Regions from separate parts of the Homo sapiens genome. Here all the other regions are linked to region 1. The links come from fine-mapping of genetic effects on gene expression. A gene starts in region 1. Each other region holds a variant in brackets. All regions are shown on one strand. Distances are from middle to middle.

Region 1 (5,153 bases):
TTTTTAAGGCTAAATTTCACTTTTGTCACCCAGGCAAGAGTGCAGTGGCATAATCTCAGCTCACTGCAACCTCCACCTGCTGGGTTCAAGTGATTCTCTTGCCTCAGCCTCCCGAGTAGCTGGGATTACAGATGCCTGCCACCATGTGTGGCTAATTTTTGTATTTTTAGTTGAGGCGGGGTTTCACCACGTTGGCCAGGCTGGTCTCAAACTCCTGACCTCAGGTGATCTGCCCACCTCGGCCTCCCAAAGTGCTGGGATTACAGGTGTGAGCCACTGTGCCTGGCCCTTTGCTGCAATTTAACAGTCCTCCAGTTTTCACTTTATGTCTCTGGCTCCCACCACTCAAATGTCCACTGCTCAGATAGACAAAGCTGAGAGACAAATGCCCTGTAGAACTCCTAAGTTCTCCCTCCACTGGCCTCTAAGCTTTTGTGCTGGGTCAGGCTAATTTGCTTGACTCTTTTCCAGTGACTTCTCTTTGGGGAGGCTCCCCAGCCCCTTTTGCAAATAGATCCTTCCAGATAAGCCCAGACATACTGAATCCCAAGTGGAGGCTGCTATGGCTCAGGGTCAGACATTGAGTTCCCAGTAACTATTTATTAGCCATTCACTATGTGCTAAACACTGGGGTTCCAAGGATGATGGTCTCCTCTCATCATGGAGCTGCCTTGGGAATTTAGACAAGAGCTCTTTGAGCAGTGATGGCCTTTACCCCAAGGAGGGGTACCTCCTGCTCAAAGGTAATACCAAAGGTGCCAACTAATCACTGACTTGGCAGAGAACCTCTCTCAATATAACTAGAAGTTTCATCAAAGTTTCTTAAGCACTCCACCATTGACTGCTCTCCTTCACCATCCCCCAGGTTCTTACTCAACCACGTGCCTCTGTCTGCTTCTTTCCAACTTGTAGCAGCACCTTTCCTCTTCTATTCTTTGTTCTTGTCCTGGATGTCATTCCCTTTCTCCCCTCAGAGGCAGAGAGGAGAGGGCTGCTGGAGGAAGAAGAAAAGTGAAAAAGCTGTAGAAATTTGCTTCCACAATAAACAATACCCGAAAAACCTGTACATTCTTTTCTTCAACTTAAATGAAGAACCCAAGTGTGCACTCATATGAAGTAAAAAAGGTGCAAATAGGCCGGGCACGGTGGCTCACGCCTGTAATCCGAGCACTTTGGGAGGGCGAGGCGGGCGGATCACCTGAGGTCGGGAGTTCGAGACCAGTCTGACCAATGTGGAGAAACCTCACCTCTACTAAAAATACAAAATTAGCCAGGCATGGTGGCGGGCGCCTGTAATCCCAGCTACTTGGGAGCCTGAGGCAGGAGAATTGCTTGAACCTGGGATGCGGAGGTTGTGGTGAGCAGAGATCACACCACTGCACTCCAGCCCAGGCAACAAGAGCAAAACTCCGTCTCAGAATAAATAAATAAAAAAAATACAGTTCCTTTTTTTTTTTTTTTAAAGAAGTACAAATAGCTTTGCATGCAATTTATGAATTTTTTCCTGATTCTGATCGCTGGTGTTCAGTAGGAAAGGGAATCAAAACTCCATAAAGCAAATCAGCTTATCTGTAGATAACCAAAGTCTTCTCAGTGGTGTCTGTCCCTCTTGTGAAAGTACAGCTGCTTGTGGGAAAAGTGAGAGACCTAGAATACAGTGTATCTTTTGGGGGACATACCTCTGACTGTTACAGAAGCATGTGATTAATTTGGAAGGTAGAATTTCGGAACATCATATTTTAATAGGAAGCTTGAAAGGTAAGTAGAGGAAAACATCAAGCAAAGCAAAATACACCATTTGCAGAGTTCAATCAGATATGACTCAGCATTTCTTCATTGTGCTCATCCCCAGCTCCTCAAGCACATAGTGCCTTGCACACAGTAGGGGCTGAGGGAAATATTCGTTAATGCATTAATTTTAGTTAAAACTAGATACCTCCTAATCTCTCAGTGGCTTGAACTGGGTCAAACAGCAGAGGAATGGGGTAAATAAGGAAAGACACCCGGTAAAGGTAGAACAAGACCACTGCTTAATAAATATATTCGTTTTTGGGGTTATTATTTTGCTCAAAAGTCTATGAGGTGACCAACCCAGAATGTGGCAGTTAATTCTATTTACATTTTCAGTGTGGGATCCAGGTTTTCAAGTTTGTTATGTGATTTTATGCAAAACAATATGCAAATCCAGCGCATTCTAAAAATTCAGTCTGCTTTCCAGCCGCTCCCCTGGTCACAAACAACTAAGGTTGGCGCCGGGCTCTCTGGGATCCTTCGCGGAGGGGCAGAGCAGGCGGGGGTGACTGGCAGCGGGGCGGGGGAAAGGGCGGTCCCGGAGGCGGTCCCGGGGCGGAGCCCGTGACGCGCGGAGTCGGCCGGCTTAAGGGCCGGACCTCAGCGTCTCCCGGAGTCTGGCCGCAGTCGCGGCAGTGGTGGCTTCCCATCCCCAAAAGGCGCCCTCCGACTCCTTGCGCCGCACTGCTCGCCGGGCCAGTCCGGAAACGGGTCGTGGAGCTCCGCACCACTCCCGCTGGTTCCCGAAGGCAGATCCCTTCTCCCGAGAGTTGCGAGAAACTTTCCCTTGTCCCCGACGCTGCAGCGGCTCGGGTACCGTGGCAGCCGCAGGTTTCTGAACCCCGGGCCACGCTCCCCGCGCCTCGGCTTCGCGCTCGTGTAGATCGTTCCCTCTCTGGTTGCACGCTGGGGATCCCGGACCTCGATTCTGCGGGCGAGATGCCCCTGGGACACATCATGAGGCTGGACCTGGAGAAAATTGCCCTGGAGTACATCGTGCCCTGTCTGCACGAGGTGGGCTTCTGCTACCTGGACAACTTCCTGGGCGAGGTGGTGGGCGACTGCGTCCTGGAGCGCGTCAAGCAGCTGCACTGCACCGGGGCCCTGCGGGACGGCCAGCTGGCGGGGCCGCGCGCCGGCGTCTCCAAGCGACACCTGCGGGGCGACCAGATCACGTGGATCGGGGGCAACGAGGAGGGCTGCGAGGCCATCAGCTTCCTCCTGTCCCTCATCGACAGGCTGGTCCTCTACTGCGGGAGCCGGCTGGGCAAATACTACGTCAAGGAGAGGTCTAAGGTAGGACGCGCTCGGCGCCCTGCCGCAGCTGCTCCCGCGGGGACGGGAGGCACTCGGAGTCCGTTGTATGTCGACTTCCCAGGGCCGTAAGCGAACTTTGTTTTTTAACCAAGAAGTCAGCCTGGTTTGTCTCTACTCGCTGCTTCCCCCCACCCCTCGCCCCAGCTCCTCTGAGCGAAAGTCAACGTTAAGGGGCTCAGGTGAACCATGATGATGACCTTCTGTTGACTTTGAAATATTGGCTCTTGTGGGTGACAAAAGCCAGACAAGCTGTGGCTGTGGTCCGATTTTAAGACGAGGTTCTCAAAGATCCAAAGGAGGGAAAGGGTATTGGAAACACTGTGTATCATCTGAGACACACGTGTCCTCATGATCTTAAATGCCTACTTTAAAGCCACCTAATACTGCCCTTCATTGTGGTCAGAAGAGATTTCTACAAAAGCACTCAGAATTCTGGAGGCAGTTGTGATTTTGCCATGTGGCAGTTGGTTTGTGGAGTTGGGCAGGTGTGAAAGGGTAAAACTCCACTTCTGAATGCTGCTTCTGCCCCCTGGGACCCAGCACATTGTTAGACCATCTTCTTGACTGAAAATTCTCTCCTGATGCTGAGCCCTGCACCACCACCTTCCTTTTCCTAACTATGAATTGATGGCAAAGTCCACTCAAAACAACCAGTTAAGTGCTCACGAGAGAGTAGTCAAGCACCTCCAGAAAGAAACCGGGTTTTTGTTCACATAGCAGGAAGTGACTCCCTGGGTGGTAATTTATCTTGGAAACACAGGTAGATTGGCAGAAAAACGGGAACATGTAGGTACCGCGATGTTGGTGCATGTCCATTACTTTGGGATAGGCTTTCTCAGTCTTTCCTCAAATGATAGTTGAGCCAGTTTTCCAGTGGCAATTCTGAGTGACTTGCGCTTGTCTTATGGTGTGGTCAAGGGACGTTCAGAACTACGGAAAACTTTTACTGAAACAGCGAAGCAGAGTATACCGGCATGAGAGGGAAGATGAACACTCACCTATGTACCACTCTTTGACAATAAATATAGTATTTCTCAAATCAGTCTCAAGACTGATCCTGTCTCAGAACAGACCATTGTTCTCTCATTTCTCTAATACGCTGAGAGGAACACTCTGAATAAAGGCTAAGTGGTGAGGATTGGAAACGTGTGGGAGTGAAGGGGTGGAGGTGGATGAGTGCAGTGGGGAGTCACAGTTTGCCGTACAACTTCCAAGCCAAGAGGCCATGAATAGAATATCTGAAAGCATCGTTATTAATGCACCCAAGTAAAGTAAATCTTAGAAGATACTGCTTTCTAAATTTTACTTTGGGGAAAAAAATTCCGCGTGAGCTGAACTCTGTAGGAGATTGATGCTAAAGTGTTTCTTTATTCTTCTTCCATCATGTTGGTGGTGGATTAGTCACTCGTCTTTGACTAGTTTGATTTTTGCATTAAATGACCTTGCTGTCTTCTGTGGTGGAGGTGTGTCGGGGAGGGGAAGGGTCAGCCTCAGTGTTGCTGAGATGCTGGTAGTTTCTACCTGGAAGAGCAGACGGCTTCTTATTGGGTTTTTAAATGTTTCTTGTAAATTTAGGTGTTAGGAGTTTTTCTTCATCATTCTAGGAGCAGAATTTGCTCTGAGGGAGGTCAGGATTAATTGGTATGGAAAGAGGCCACTAACATTGAAAGTTAAATATTTTTATTTAGCTTTGACTTAATGGATAGGGATAGGGTTTCAGACTAGAATTTAACTCAAATGGAAGGAAAAACACTGTGTAAGTTAGGGTAAGGGAAAGAAAGATCCTGTAGATATGATTCATCAATTTTAGGTTATCTTTTGGGTGGAATGAAAAACTTTCCAGGTGACCCTGTCAGAAGGTGATCGTGAATTGAAAATAAAATTTATCCTGTCCCACCCCCAGATTTCCAGGTTTACTTTGGCTGGTTTGTCACAAAGCTCCCTGCCCTTTAGATAAATCACCTTTCGATTGGAATATTCCCTGGCCAATTAGAACCAAATGCAAACCAGGCTTGAGCAAACAACTAGTGTAGTTAAATTTTTTT
Region 2 (5,153 bases), 58 kb before region 1:
AGGGACAGAGATGAACAGAGAGTTAGAGAAAAGCAGACAACTGATAGACAGCAGTCCAGTGTTGACACAGAAACTGAGAGACGTGGAAAGAAGGCAGTGAGCAGACACTATGAAGCAAGTAATGACTTCAGTAGAAGAGGATATGAATGGAGGCATAGAAAGGCATCTGCTAGCAGAAGATTAAGAAGAAGCAGCAAGTAGAGAAAGGACTCAGTGGAGGAGATGCTTCAGAAATGGCAGGCTGCTGGAGAAACTGCTGCTTCATCCTGAACCACGTTCCAGTTCTCCATGAGGCCTCACATGTAGCCCCAGAAACCATTTTCTTTGCTTCCTCAAGCCTCCTAAGTATCTTTATCCTGGAGTAAACGAGAAGGTCTCCATATTTTGCAACTTGAAAAACCCCCGTTCTAAAACGAGCAGGTTGTCTAGAGAGAACCATGAGCGTCCCTTCTGTTGTAATTTGAGAGGAGTATTGTAAAAAGACACATAGACCACCTGTGGGGAGCTTCACATGGTGGCCAGTGCTTTGCTGGGGTGACCACAATTCAGTTCTTGTTTTTTGCATTGTAGCTCTTGAAATTTGATTTAATCTGTGCAGCCAGTGTTGACTTACCCCAACTAGGAGATTTATAGATAATCTAATATGCAGATGTATAATGTGAGGCCAAACTTTCCAGACATAGGGATCTCTTTCTATAGTTTTTGATACTGTTGAATATCTTCTTATCAAAACTCTCGTTAGAGTTTTTACCGTTTTTCTTTTTTTTTTTTTTTTTTAGCATTACTTCTCTTTTTCCACTTTTGGGACCAAAAATATATCTAATTCTTGCTGTTTGTCCTTCATCTGCCTTTATTATCTCCTTGTTCTCCTTGGAAATACCCTCCACTGCCATGGTTCTCCTCTACCCCAGTGATATCTATCCATACAGCCCTCTCCACTCTAACACCCTGCCATATTTTCAAATCTCCAGGGGACATATTCACCTGAAAATCTCATCAGCCTCTCGAATTTAATGAGTTCAAAATGGAAATTATTTTCTTTCTCCGCAAAATTCTTCCTCCCGTGTTCCAACCCCTTCTCTAAAAATAGAACCTCAGTGAGCCAGTCCAAAGCTCGGGATTCTTTTTACTTCTTTTGCAACTCTATACCCAATAGCTATGATCACAAAGTCCTGGCAATTCCACCTATATAATATGAATTTCATTCATCTCTCTCTGTGTTCATTACGCAATGTGCATAGCAAATTGTGCCAAAACTTGGCAGCTTAAAATATGTCCATTATTTCATACAGGTTGTGAAGGCTGGGAATCTGAGAGTGGCTTAGCTTAGCTGATCTCTCATGAAGTTGTAGGCAAGTTGTTATCTGGGGCTGCAGTCATCTTAAAGGTTGACTACGGATGGAGAACCACTTTTAAGATCACTCATGATCAATGCCATTTTTTATAGAATTAGAAAAACTGGCCAGGCCGGGTGGCTCATGCCTGTAATCTCAGCACTTTGGGAGGCTGAGGTGAGTGGATTGCTTGAGCCCAGGAGTTTAAGACCAGCCTGGGCAACATGGCAAGACCCTATCTCTAATATTATTTTAAAAATTTTAAAAACTATTTTAAAATTCATAGGGAACAACAACAAAAAGAGCCCAGATAGCCAAAGCAATCCTAAATGAAAAGAACAAAGCCAGCAGCATCACATTATTCAACTTTAAACTACACTACAAGGCCACAGTAACCAAAACAGCATGGTGCTGGTAGAAAAATAGAGACATAGACCAATGGATCAGAATAAAGAAGGCAGAAATAATGCAGCATACCTGCAACCAATGGATCTTCAACAAAGTCCACAAGAAAAAGCAATGAGGAAAGGACTCCTAGTCAAGAAATAGTGCTGGGAAAACTGGCTAGCCACATGCAGAAGAATGATACTGGACCCTTATGTTTCACCATATACAAAAATTAACTCAAATGAATTAAAGACTTTGTAAGACCTCAAACTATTAAAATCCTAGAAGAAAACCTAAGAAATACTCTTCTGGACAATGGCCTTGGCAAGGAATTTATGACCAAGTTCTCAAAAGCAATTGCAACAGAACCAAAAATTGACAAGTGGGACCTAATTAAACTAAAGCTTCTGCATAGCAAAATAACCCATCAACAGAGTAAATAGAGAATCTATAGAATGGAAGAAAATATTCATATACTATGCATCTGACAAAGAATTAATATCCAGAATCTGTGAAGAACTTAAACAAATCAACAAGGAATAAATAACTCCATTAAAAAGTGGGCAAATCGGGAGTTTGAGGTTGCAGTGAGCCATGATCATACCACTGCATTCCAGTCTGGATAACAGAGCAAGACCCTGTTTAATTAAAAAAAAAAAAAAAAGTGAGCAAAGGTCATGAGCAGACACTTCTCTAAAGAAGACATACAAGTGGCCAAAAAATATGAAAAAATGCTCACCATCACTAATTACCAGATAAATGCAAATCAAAACCACGATGAGATACCATCTCACGTTAGCCAGAATGGCTATTATAAAAAAGTAAAAAAAAAACAAAACCCAGCAGATTCTGGTGAGGCTGCAGAGTGGGAACATAAATTACTTCAGCCACTGTGGAAAGCAGTTTGGAGTTTTCTCACAGAACTTAAAACTAAACTACCATTCAACCGTGCAATCCCATTACTGGGTATACACCCCAAAGAAAATAAATCGTTCTACCAAAAAGACGTATGCACTCGTATGTTCATCTTGGCACTGTTCACAATAGCAAAGACATGGAATCAACCTAGGTGCCCATCAATGGCTGATGAGATGAAGAAAATATGGTATATATACATCATGGAAAACTACACAGCCATAAAAAGAATGAAATTATGTCCTTTGCAGCAACACGGATGTGGCTGGAGGCCATTATCCTAAGCGAATTAACATAGAAACAGAAAACCAATTATCTCATGTCCTCACTCATAAGTGGGAGCTAAATCTTGGCTACA[C/G]GCAGACATAAGATGGCAACAATAGACGCTGGGGACTTCAAAGTTTGGGGGGTAAGGGCTGGAAAACTTTCTATTAGGTACTATGTTTACTATTTGGGTGACACGACTAGTAGAAGCCCGAACCTCAGCACCAAGCAAAATATCCTTGTAACAAACCTGCACATGTACTCTCTGAATCTAAAATTAACATGGAAATTAAAGAAAAAAAATCACTCATTGTTGTAAGCAGATCTCAGTTCCTTCCTGGCTATTGGCTGGAGGCTTCAGTTCCTCACCATGGACTTCTCTACAGGGCTTCTCACCACATGACAGTTTACTTTCCCCACTTGGGGAGGGGTAGTGGGAGAGGAGGAGGAGTGGGTTGGGGGAGAACGTATGTGCTCAGGGTGGTAGCTGCAGTCCTCTTTAGAACCTAATCTTGGAAGTCACACACTATTACTTTTACCATATTCTGTTTGTTAAAAGGAAACAGCTAAGTCTAGCCTACACTCAAAAAGAAGGAATTAAGTGAGAAGTGTCCTTATGGACATATTTTTGAAACTACCACCCCCTCTTCTTCATTTCTGCTTCTGTAATCCTCTTTCAGTCCCCATCATTTCTTACCGGTATTTGTGCTTGACATAAAGACCAAGATCCTTAATATCGCCTACAGGGTTCATGTTATGTCTGTTTCTGCATTGCCACTGTATTCTATTTATCTGTCAGTCTGTTTTTCTCTATTCCTGAGTCTTTTTCTCCCTGTCTATTTCACGTTCAAACTCCCCAAGAGAGAGGCATTGATTGGTTCTGGCAATAACTATCTGGTGTCACTCGAGGTCACCTTATGATGACCTGGCGGAGGAGTCTAAAGGAGCCTGTCTTTTGGCCAGGTGTTGATACCTGGCTCAATCAGTGTGGCCAAGGTGGTGGGTAATTTAACCCTGCCTAACACTTTCTTATCTCAAACCACAATCTCCCAGGCCCCTGGTTCTACCTCCACTGGCCTTTTCCCAGAAGGTTTGGAGTGTCATTTCCCCTCTTGCCACAGAGCCTATGCTCGTCCTGTTCTTCTGCCCAGCAAACTCTTCTCTCCAGCCCACTCGGCCCACTCCTGCATATCTTTACATCTCAGCCCGGTGTCACCTCTTCAGCCTGACTTCCTCACCCCTCCATCTACGTTAAGGTGTCTTACGAGCTCTCAGAACACTCTGCACTTTTCCTTCACAACTCTTATTCGTTCGGTTATTTAACATCTCCTTCCTCCTCTAACCTGAAGCTTCCATGAGGGCAGGGACCATTTTGCCCACAATGTCTGGCACTTGCTATGAACACAGTGATTATTTAAAACACAGGGAATAATTAGTGTTTCTCCAACATTCATGCTTCTCCCTGGCTCAAACACTCTTGGTGGTCCTCTAGCGCGTGCAGGACAGAGCCACAGCTCTTTGGCTTGGTATTCTTGGCCCTTTGGGTAATCCGGGCCCATCTTGCCTTTCTGGTTTCAGTTCTCAGCACTCCTTTTAACAGACCCAAAAGTCTTAACTGCAATGGATTAGTTGCTATTTCCAAAGCGCTCTTTATGCTTTACTCTCTGAATCTTTGCTCACATTGTGCCCTGAATCCTGGAATGAATTCTCCCCACTGGGATTATATCAAAATCTCTTTCTAGAAAAACTTTCACTGTGTTTTTTGTATATTGCTTTTTTTTTTAAAATATAAACAAAGTACTAATTTTAAGAACTTTTCTTACATTAGTTCATTTAATGATTATGACAGCCTACAAGATAAATCCACTTAGTATTCACACAAAGCTTAAATAACTGGTACGGATAAACACCTAGTATGTGTCATAGCTGGAATCGGAACCCAGGTGGTCTGGCTCCAGAGTGCAACTATGGAATCTGCATACTTTCTCTGCTCCTAGACTCTTACTCTTTGAGGGTGGAGGGGGTGTCTTATCCTTCATTTTTTTATCTCCCCTAGGGGCTCACTCCAAGTAGTTTCTAACTAATGTTTAATAAATTAATGACTAGAAACCAGTGCCTCAGGCAGAAAATGATGGAGGAAAGCTGCCTCTGTTCACAAAAAAGCACCTCGTTTTTACTTCTTTGGTTACAAACCCTCAGTCCTTCCTCCCTGGCTTTAAGTATGTAGTTTAATAACTAATGGTATTTTTTTCC
Region 3 (5,153 bases), 26 kb after region 1:
ACTCCCTTCTAGTCCTTTCTGTAGAGGCTATGTTTACCTGTTGCATTATTGCAAAATCACCTGTCTCCCCTACTTGGAGCCTGAGATCGCAGAGGAAGATCTGATCACAGGGTCATTTGAATTCCTAATGCCCAAGATAATTTCTGGCACATACCTGGAATTCCTTATGCATTTTATTACATTGAAATAGAATTAAAACCAGAGAAGTTAATTTTAAATTAAAATCAGCGTAGACAGGCCGGGCATGGTGGCTCACACCTGCAATCCCAGCACTTTGGGAGGCCGAGGTGGGCAGGTCAAGAGATCGAGACCATCCTGGCCAACATGGTGAAACCCCATCTCTACTAAAAATTTAAAAATTAGCTGGGTGTGGTAGCGTGCACCTGTAGTCCCAGCTACTTGGGAAGCTGAGGCAGGAGAATCGCTTGAACCTGGGAAGTGGAGGTTGCAGTGAGCCGAGATCACGCCTCTGCCTGGCAACAGAGCAAGACTCCATCTCAAAAAATAAATAAATAAATAAATAAATAAATAAATAAATAAATCAGGGTAGACTTCTAATAATAGAGAAAACTTTAAAACTTTTAATGTGAGATTTATAGGACATTTGTGTTTCTAGTAGTACCATTAAATCTCTTTCCTTATATCTGCTTATCTTTCACAGATATGCTATGACTGTCTGGTACTTTGATGCTGAAGAAAGGGCAGAAGCCAAAAAGAAATTCAGGAATTTAACTAGTATGTGTTTGATAATTTTCTGTGACTTTTGATCAAGTTAATCCTTGACTTTTATTCAATTTTATGTAGTTTTAAACATGTTCTGTTCAATCTGTTACGGCTTAGCTTTATATATAATGACATCTTGATGGGTTTTATCCTGAAACCTTGGCCTTAGGGCTCTTAGAAAAATCAGAAACAATGCAAGGGGCTTCCCCTGAGAATGCCCACTGAATGTATGATGGTTTATGATAGATGGGAAATAGTTAACTTTTTCCTATTAATGTTAACCAGTCAAATGTAACATTAAATTTTGCCCATGATTTTTGGCATATTGCAAAGGAAATATAATGGAACCCAGTTATGATGGCAAAATTTATTATATTGGGTGAGACTGTGACTCTCAGTATAACAGCAGGGCTCATGTAATATAAACTGAATATAACAGCACTACTCCTATCCCTTCCAACCAGTATTAGAAGGCAGCATTTCCCAAAATACGTTGCATTAAAACACAAATCCTGCCAATTTGGTAAATTCCTGGTCCCAAAAATGTGGGAAATGTTGCATGCTGTATGCCTGTCTTAAAAAGAGTCACATTGCTCACTAGCATATTAAATTAAGGCGCTAAGAGATCCTGCAGTAAGGAAACATATATAATATTGCCTAGCCCATAACCCATTTGGACTGTATACCTCTCAAATACCAAAGTGGTCTCCAAATTGCACCCAGGAAATCTCAGTTTGTTTTCTCTTCCAGATGGCCTACACTGCTTAACTCTGATATGTGAGTGAGGCTACACTTCATACAACTTATGCTCAGCATTAGCCCAAGAGGTGCCAATGCTGGATGTAAACCCAAAGTTCCTCCACAGTCTGTGAGGCATATGGGAAAGATCCCATTGCAAAGTCAAGAGAGAATCCTTTGGCAGAGCTCTATTAGGAGGCTTATATAAGATGGGAAGTGTTTACTGGAGGCTTTTTGGTGACATTTGTGACATAAAACTCATCAGAGCTGACTCCATACCCTCTTTATTCTCCTTTCTGTCCCCAACCCAGGGAAAACTGAATCTGCCCTCACTGAAGACTGACCGTGCTCTGAAATCTGCTGGCCTTGTTCATTTTAGTAACGGTTCCTGAATTCTCTTAAATTCTTTGAGATCCAAAGATGGCCTCTTCAGTGACAACAATCTCCCTGCTACTTCTTGCATCCTTCACATCCCTGTCTTGTGTGTGGTACTTCATGTTTTCTTGCCAAGACTGTGTTGATCTTCAGATACTCTCTTTGCCAGATGAAGTTACTTGCTAACTCCAGAAATTCCTGCAGACATCCTACTCGGCCAGCGGTTTACCTGATAGATTCGGTAATACTATCAAGAGAAGAGCCTAGGAGCACAGCGAGGGAATGAACCTTACTTGCACTTTATGTATACTTCCTGATTTGAAAGGAGGAG[G/A]TTTGAAAAGAAAAAAATGGAGGTGGTAGATGCCACAGAGAGGCATCACGGAAGCCTTAACAGCAGGAAACAGAGAAATTTGTGTCATCTGAACAATTTCCAGATGTTCTTAATCCAGGGCTGTTGGGGTTTCTGGAGAATTATCACAACCTAATGACATTAATACCTCTAGAAAGGGCTGCTGTCATAGTGAACAATTTATAAGTGTCCCATGGGGCAGACACTCCTTTTTTCCCAGTCCTGCAACCTGGATTTTCTGCCTCAGCCCCATTTTGCTGAAAATAATGACTTTCTGAATAAAGATGGCAACACAATTTTTTCTCCATTTTCAGTTCTTACCTGGGAACCTAATTCCCCAGAAGCTAAAAAACTAGACATTAGTTGTTTTGGTTGCTTTGTTGGAATGGAATTTAAATTTAAATGAAAGGAAAAATATATCCCTGGTAGTTTTGTGTTAACCACTGATAACTGTGGAAAGAGCTAGGTCTACTGATATACAATAAACATGTGTGCATCTTGAACAATTTGAGAGGGGAGGTGGAGTTGGAAATGTGGGTGTTCCTGTTTTTTTTTTTTTTTTTTTTTTAGTTTTCCTTTTTAATGAGCTCACCCTTTAACACAAAAAAAGCAAGGTGATGTATTTTAAAAAAGGAAGTGGAAATAAAAAAATCTCAAAGCTATTTGAGTTCTCGTCTGTCCCTAGCAGTCTTTCTTCAGCTCACTTGGCTCTCTAGATCCACTGTGGTTGGCAGTATGACCAGAATCATGGAATTTGCTAGAACTGTGGAAGCTTCTACTCCTGCAGTAAGCACAGATCGCACTGCCTCAATAACTTGGTATTGAGCACGTATTTTGCAAAAGCTACTTTTCCTAGTTTTCAGTATTACTTTCATGTTTTAAAAATCCCTTTAATTTCTTGCTTGAAAATCCCATGAACATTAAAGAGCCAGAAATATTTTCCTTTGTTATGTACGGATATATATATATATAGTCTTCCAAGATAGAAGTTTACTTTTTCCTCTTCTGGTTTTGGAAAATTTCCAGATAAGACATGTCACCATTAATTCTCAACGACTGCTCTATTTTGTTGTACGGTAATAGTTATCACCTTCTAAATTACTATGTAATTTATTCACTTATTATGTTTATTGTCTTGTATCCTTTCTCTGGAGTGTAAGCACAATGAAGACAGGAATTTTGTATATTTTTAACCAATGCAACATACTCTCAGCACCTAAAATAGTGCCGGGAACATAGTAAGGGCTCAGTAAATACTTGTTGAATAAACTCAGTCTCCTACATTAGCATTCTAATGGTTTGATTAATATATTCCATCTTTGGCAGGAAGGGCTTGCTAGAATTTTTACACACATCTTTTTAACATTGTTGACTTACACATTTACGCTAAGAGTTTTAGAACGCTTTGGTCATAGTGTTGCTTCGTATTTGTATACCCATGAATAGGTCATTCACTGACCACTATGAATCTGAAAATTGAACAAATTATATTTTGCCCTTCCATATCCTAGAAACAACATTAGTAAAATAACATTAGTCTCAGATAGGACAGAGTGAATTCCCCTTTCGAACAATCTTGAAAAATTTCAATAGGAAAGAAAGGACGAAGTTTATTAGGAATTTTGTATTCTGTAAAATTGTAGTTATATATTTTTCATGATTTCTAATGTCATAAGAATGATAGTGACAATATTCTGAAGGAGGATCATATAGTTCCAAAAGCATGTCTTGTATTTTTCATTTTAGTCAATATGCCAAAAGATCTGACCTCCAAGGCTTTGTTTATTCCTTCCAGACAAAGGTCCTATAAGCTAACAAACCACTTTTTTTATGTGCACTGATTTTTTTTTTTTTTTTTTTTTAATGACTCAATTTGAGTCCTGGAAAATTAAGCTGGAAAATACAACTTTAATGCTAGGAGTCTGTTTTTTGCTCCTCTCTTTGACAGCCCATTTAGGGGAGGAGTTAGCCCTGCTAAAGAAACATTATTTGGCAAATAATCTGATCAATTTCATTTATATTCCCGGCAATGAAATATTAAGAGCCTACCTCACCATTATGTCACTTATATAGTCCAGAGTTCTTGGTAGGAGATTAAATTTTGAACCAAAGATCCAATTTCATGGAAATAAAAAGTCTTACCTAAGTGCATTAGATAGATCCTTAGTAGAGTAGTTAATACCATTAAATGCTGGACTGTCAGAATCATGAATTATCCATTCAGACATGATTTTGTTTTTCTTTAACTCAGGTTTTTTAGAGGCTGGGTCGTCCTAATTTCTTTTGGCCATTCAGTACTGAAATTTCCTGTGTTTTAGAAAGCAATGATGGGAAATGCCATGCTGGGCCAGCAGTTTATATAAGATAGGAGTTTGGATATGTCAGGTACTTATATATTTGATCGACTACGAGGACAAGCAGAAGGGATATTCTTAGTAAAGTTATTTTTTAAAACGATACAACATTGACTTAGCTACAGTCTTGAATCTTTTGAATGGCATGAAGAGTTGGTTAGTAAGGTGGTTAGAAAGTATTGTTAGAACAGAATAGAAATAAACTTTTCTTTTTTGACACAGAGTCTTGCTCTGTCACGCAGGCTGGAGTGCAGTGGCGCCGTCTTTGCTGACTGTAACCTCTGATTCCCGAGTTCAAGCAGTTCTTTGCCTCGTCCTACCGAGTAGCTGGGATTACAGATGCCCGCCACCACACCCGGCTAATTTTTGTATTTTTAGTAGAGACGGGGTTTCGCTATCTTGGCCAGGCTGGTCTCAAACTCCTGACCTCGTGATCCACCTGCCTCGGCCTCCCAAAGTGTTGGGATTACAGGCGTGAGCCACCGTGCCCAGAGGAAATAAACTTTTCAAATGAAGCTGTCTATAGTTGAACTCTGTTGGATAATATATGCTGGTTTATGTTAAAGACCCAGTCTACTTTCAGACCCCATCTACTCTCATCCCAATACGGTTTT
Region 4 (5,153 bases), 250 kb after region 1:
AACATTAAAATTTAAAACCAGAATTTTCTTAACCTAGAAAGCAAGTCCCCTGATCCTGGAAAAATTAAGACTTATGAGAATAAATGAATAAATGAATGAGTCAATGATTTATTTAAGAGACAGGGTCTTGCTCTGTCGCCCAAGCTGAAGTGCAGCAGTATGATCATGGCTCACTGTAGCCTCAACTTTCCAGGCTTAGGCAATCCTTCTGCCTCAGCCTCTCAAGTGTCTGGGACTATAGGTACATGCCACTAAGCCTGAAAAATGTTTTCAAAATTTTTTTTTTGTAGAAATGGGGGGTCTCACTGTGTGGCACAGGCTAGTCTTAAACTCCTGGCCTCTGGCAATCCCACCTCACCCTCCAAAAGTGATTGGATCATGGGAATAAGCCACTGCTCCCAGCCAAGGGTAATTTAATATCATAACGCTATTCATTAGAACATGTATCTTTTGACTATAATTTTGCAAGTTCTACATTAAACAGTACAGGAATTCTTCTGCCCCAATCCTCTTCCCCCACCCCACCTCCAACTAATGCGATTTCCAAAGGAAATATATTGACTCAGGATGGAGTTTGCATTTCATTATCTGCTGTATTAAACTAAAAGTCCTAATTCAATTGGAAAGTTTGATATATATACATAAAGCCATATAATGTGGCTTATATCTTCTAGCTTAAGTGGAAATTGTCAGGTGGATATTTCACACCCAGAATGATCAACCTAGGGCTTATTTTCAAAGAAGAGAATGTACATCAACTCGCACCCCCAGCTCCCTCAATCCTTACTGACAAGAGTGGTTGTAACACAAGTTTGCCATTCAGGGAGCTGATTCTATTCTCACTCCTTGTCTAATGTGGGTTAGATGAGGTCTCTATCTTCTTGCCCTCCCACCCTCTCCCCTTCAGGTTCCACATACATATCTAGAACAGGAGCCAGACAAATGATAAGTTACTCTTAAAAAGATAACCCCTGTAATTATGAGTCAATCCATTGAATGTTAGTGTTCTTCTAGGTTATACATAGAAAAGTCATGTCGACCATGAAACAGGTCTCTGGATTCAGAGTCAATCCACTTTCCTCACATGGACCCAACTTCTGTTTTTCAGTTCCCTTATTTGATAAGTAAGAGCTATTAACCTCACAAAGTATTGCTATTTGTGGTATATTTATAGAATAATTTGTTAGGATTATTTGCATCTGCACTGAAATTGGTTTTGAGTTCTTTCCAACTGGAGAGATCCATCAAAAGCACTGAAAATGACTGAAAATGATAGGAGTATGTTCCAAATGCAATAGAAAGCCACTCTCCCACCAATTGCATTTTTGGCTGAATTCCCTTCTTACATAGCCAAGATAATTCTGTCCAAGGGACAGGGATAACTATTGATACTGGGTGAGAGCAATAACTGGATGACCAATACCATTTGCATGTTTAAAGAGAATTTGAAAGAGCATCACAATTAACATGGAACAGAGGACAGCCTCTCTAGAGAGTTACTTCTGAAAGGAACTGAAAATACTCCTTTTAGGCACTTTTCCAGAAAGTTCTCCAGTTTTTATCTTGCATCTTCTCTAGAAGGCTGAACAGTTTGACAATCTACTTTTTTTCTACCACAGCATCTCAGTTTAGTTTTGCTTCCTATATAGTTGGTTCTACATCCATCTCTTGCTAGATTGTAAGATCCCTGAGGGCAGATACCATTTCTTATTCATCTTTGTAGCCTCCAAAGCATTTGGTAGATATCTCTGCACACAGAATTTGGGTTAAATAAACAAATGAACCAATGACCTAATCACAAATTGTACCTCATGGGCAGAGACTGATTCAGTACGAACACTGGAAATACTCAAAAAGTTGTTAAATGGATAAATGAATGAATGAGTGAAGGAACAGGCCTTTAAAGAGTTGCTCTAAATACTCCTGTGTAGAAATTGTAAGACAAAAGGTGGCTGGGAGTGGAACTGTGTCTAAATATGAAGCAAACCAAAATTGTTATAACATTTTCCCCACTCTCTAGAAAAAATTAAAACAAATTAGTGACATTAATGAAAAGCCAAGGATCTAAAAACTAATGAAGGATTCTACTGAAACAGTAATTCCCACTGTCTTTTGGAGCCAGGGTCCACTCTGAGAATTTGAGCAAATCCCTTTTTCAAGAACAATGACTCACATCCATACGCAGTTTTGCATATAGTGTTCCTCTCAATATGGGATGGCCAAACAGACCTGCAGGTTAACAATCTATGCTTTAATAAGGACAGACTTTGAAGTTCAGGTTTAAACCATGAGATCAATGATCAGGCAAAGTTATGCATTTCTCTGTTTTTGAAGTTTTCTCATTTGTAAAATGGAAATAAAAAAGACAGTCCTAACCTCACAGGGTTGTTATGGAACTCAGATGGACAAACATGAGCATGTATTTGAAAATACTTGGTAGGCTGTGCAGCACCATATTCATGAAAGGTATTAGAGTGCTGATGCTTCCTTGCACTAGGACAGGGTAGGTAATGGAACCCACAAATCAGCTACTTCATTCTCCTCTCCTCTCCCCTTTGTTTCACGGACGCCCTTAAATTCTTTGTTCACATGCGTGCTTCTCCTACTAGCCTATAAGCTCCACTAAAGTCAGGAATGTAATTGTATTCATTTGTATCTCTTTTTCCTCCAGAACCTACATGGTGCTTTATCTGTACTTGACAATTAAACAACATTAAGAAACATATTTTGGATAGTAGCGAAATCTT[C/A]CACACTGGGTTTAAACGTGTGGTGGAATGAATTGCAGGGAAGTTCAAATTTATACGTGGATTGGTCAGACCAACCCCATTTCAATAAAATACTGTGTTCAGAAGCACACTTGCTTTATAAGTCCTGGACGCAATCACTATCTAGAGAAGGGGTGATTTATTAACTAGCTAAAACATCCTCACTGCTATAGGATAAGCTTTTCAGCCTTTACCTCCATTTGTGAGCAACTAAAAATCAAAGAACGAATAAAATCCAATCACCCAGAACTTCTTCCTGTAGACAGACTGAATTATAACTTTTTAATTTAGGCAGGTAAAGAATTATTACCGTAGGACTCTAGGGCAGGAATGTGTTAATAAAATCATCCTCTCTGCCTTTTCATTTAAAATAATCCCTTGAGCTGATTAAATGAAATATCACTTGTTTAATAACTGACAGAACATTATTTTTAAGCACAAATGTTTTGCATATTTTCGCTCCCCATTTTTAATTCCAGGCACAGGAGGGTGGAGGCACTGACATCACACAAAGGGAGTTGAGCTCTGTGCTCGGATGCAGTTTGCCCTGTCATCGTGGCATCTATAATTTAGTGTGAAGCAGCGAGGTAGACAGAGCATTATCATCAGAAACCATTCTGAACAGGGATATAAAACACAGTCGCAATAACACTTGTCAGAGAGGTGACTCCAGTCAGAACTCATATCCATGAGTTTCAAGATAAATGCTGACACGGCAGCCATCCTACAAAGACTATTATTGCTTTTAAAAAAACAAGCCAAACCCCCAAACAAAGCAAACCCATGAACCTTCCCCAGAGGGAACAAGTTAGTATGAAGTTTGCATCTGGGGTGGCATAAACTTTCCATGATTTACAGTAAGCATATCCCTTCTCCACTTGGATAGGGTATTTTATGATGCCACAGAGGAAGGATCCAATAGCATTTTGGGTTTAATGATGTTAAGCTATTTGGAATTCTTTCCCCCCTGTTATTTGGAATATATGAGCTGTGCCCCTAAAACAGGTCATTAGCTGTGCCGTGTACGGGTTCATCGCCTCACCCACAGGACTGCTCAGCTGCTGCTTGCATTTTCCCTGTCTTCTACATTTAAAAAAAAATGTCTTTGACTTGGTACTGGGCTATGATTTAATAACCCTGTTCTGCTGACTTCATAAGCTGTGAAACCTTGGAGAAAAATCCCAAATCTGAATTACAGTTCTAATTACTCTGGCCGAGGCAAAGGGTTTCAGCATTGAATGTTCTATTAGTGCCCATTTCACATTGAGTACTATTTGTTGCCAGAGGTTACAGGGCTGCATTCTGATTCGCTTTTCTCCTCTTCCACGAATGCAGCCACTTTCCTGGCGCCCTTTCTGTCTTCAAGGCTGGAGGAGCTAACTGCTTGGTGATTCCGTGCAAATAATTTTTCCTGAGCTCCCAGAACTTACTCAGAGAGTGCGCTTCGGTTTCAGAAAAACAGATCTATTGCCAACGCAAATTTACAATTTAGCAGGGTTGTTTTCATCACAAAAGGATCCACCGTGATATAAAAATATAATTAAGAAAATTATTTCCCTTTTACTTAATTGGTTGGTTTTAATTAATGATATTTATTTTAAAATGATTTATTATTCCAGCTTTTAAATGTTTGATATTTTCTAGCAATTAAAAACGTTAAAATGAAAGTTAACACATGCACATGTTTTTTTTTGAAACGTTAAAACAGCACAGAAGGGTATACAGCGAGAACAAGCCTTCCTCCCAACTCTCACCTGAGATTTCCTAGGGTCTGTCTCACAGGCCACCTCTGTGTTTCCTATGTGTCCCTGCAGAGATTCTTGTCCACATGCCAGCACATGTGGCTGTACCTGCTTTCACTTGGTACATAAATGACAGCAACCAATATGTGTTCTGCCCCTTTCCCTTTTCTGCTGGATAGCTTGAAAACTGGGTTCCATATCTGGACATGTACATCCTCAGCATTCTTTTAAATGGCAGCATGATATTTTGGCCCATGGTTTACCTTCATCCTTTATTTAGCCAAGTCTCCACTATTGATTAACTATAGATCAATTCAATTGAAAATTACAATGGAGATTCTTATAAATATTCTTTGTGCAAAGGATTATTTTAAATAGGGAATTCTGCTGGAATATTTCAGTTTCCTTTGTGAAACCTGTCTGAGGAAGGGAAGTATGTCAGGGGCTTTTAAAGCTAACGTTTAGGGGAGGGTATTACTAATTCAGAATGACCTAAAGAGCAAGGTGGATGTGGAATGATGAGAAAGTGTTTAAGTTCCAAAAATGTGATTTATCTTCTTTGGGGAGTGAAATTATTTTACAACGTAAGATATTCCTGTAGCATCCTGTGAGCATCTTCTGAGGGCTGGCGAGGCAAAAGCTTTAA

Evidence for each region. PIP is the estimated chance that this variant, and not a neighbour inherited with it, causes the effect. A credible set is the group of variants that fine-mapping cannot tell apart.
Region 2: its variant is the best candidate, but not a certain one, in a credible set for the expression of EGLN3 in whole blood (INTERVAL, PIP 0.81).
Region 3: its variant is the best candidate, but not a certain one, in a credible set for the expression of EGLN3 in whole blood (INTERVAL, PIP 0.87).
Region 4: its variant is the best candidate, but not a certain one, in a credible set for the expression of EGLN3 in whole blood (INTERVAL, PIP 0.71).

Annotation. Positions count from the first base shown.
Region 1 is chr14:33,948,330-33,953,482 of GRCh38, reverse strand. It overlaps EGLN3 (egl-9 family hypoxia inducible factor 3), which reads left to right and starts at 2,409. Exons shown (of 5, transcript NM_022073.4): 1 at 2,409-3,087. The coding sequence starts at 2,731. RefSeq lists a silencer at 2,272-2,351 and an enhancer at 2,472-2,641.
Region 2 is chr14:34,006,233-34,011,385 of GRCh38, reverse strand. The region is part of intron 5 of LOC102724945 (a long non-coding RNA gene); the gene reads left to right. Among named protein-coding and RNA genes, the nearest start is that of EGLN3-AS1, 31 kb to the left of the region's middle. The variant C/G (reference allele first, on the strand shown) is at 2,995.
Region 3 is chr14:33,922,542-33,927,694 of GRCh38, reverse strand. EGLN3 (egl-9 family hypoxia inducible factor 3) reads left to right here. Exons shown (of 5, transcript NM_022073.4): 4 at 662-735; 5 at 1,773-3,468. The coding sequence ends at 1,804. Among named protein-coding and RNA genes, the nearest start is that of EGLN3, 26 kb to the left of the region's middle. The variant G/A (reference allele first, on the strand shown) is at 2,168.
Region 4 is chr14:33,698,457-33,703,609 of GRCh38, reverse strand. The region is part of intron 6 of NPAS3 (neuronal PAS domain protein 3); the gene reads right to left. Among named protein-coding and RNA genes, the nearest start is that of SNORA89, 7.9 kb to the left of the region's middle. The variant C/A (reference allele first, on the strand shown) is at 2,748.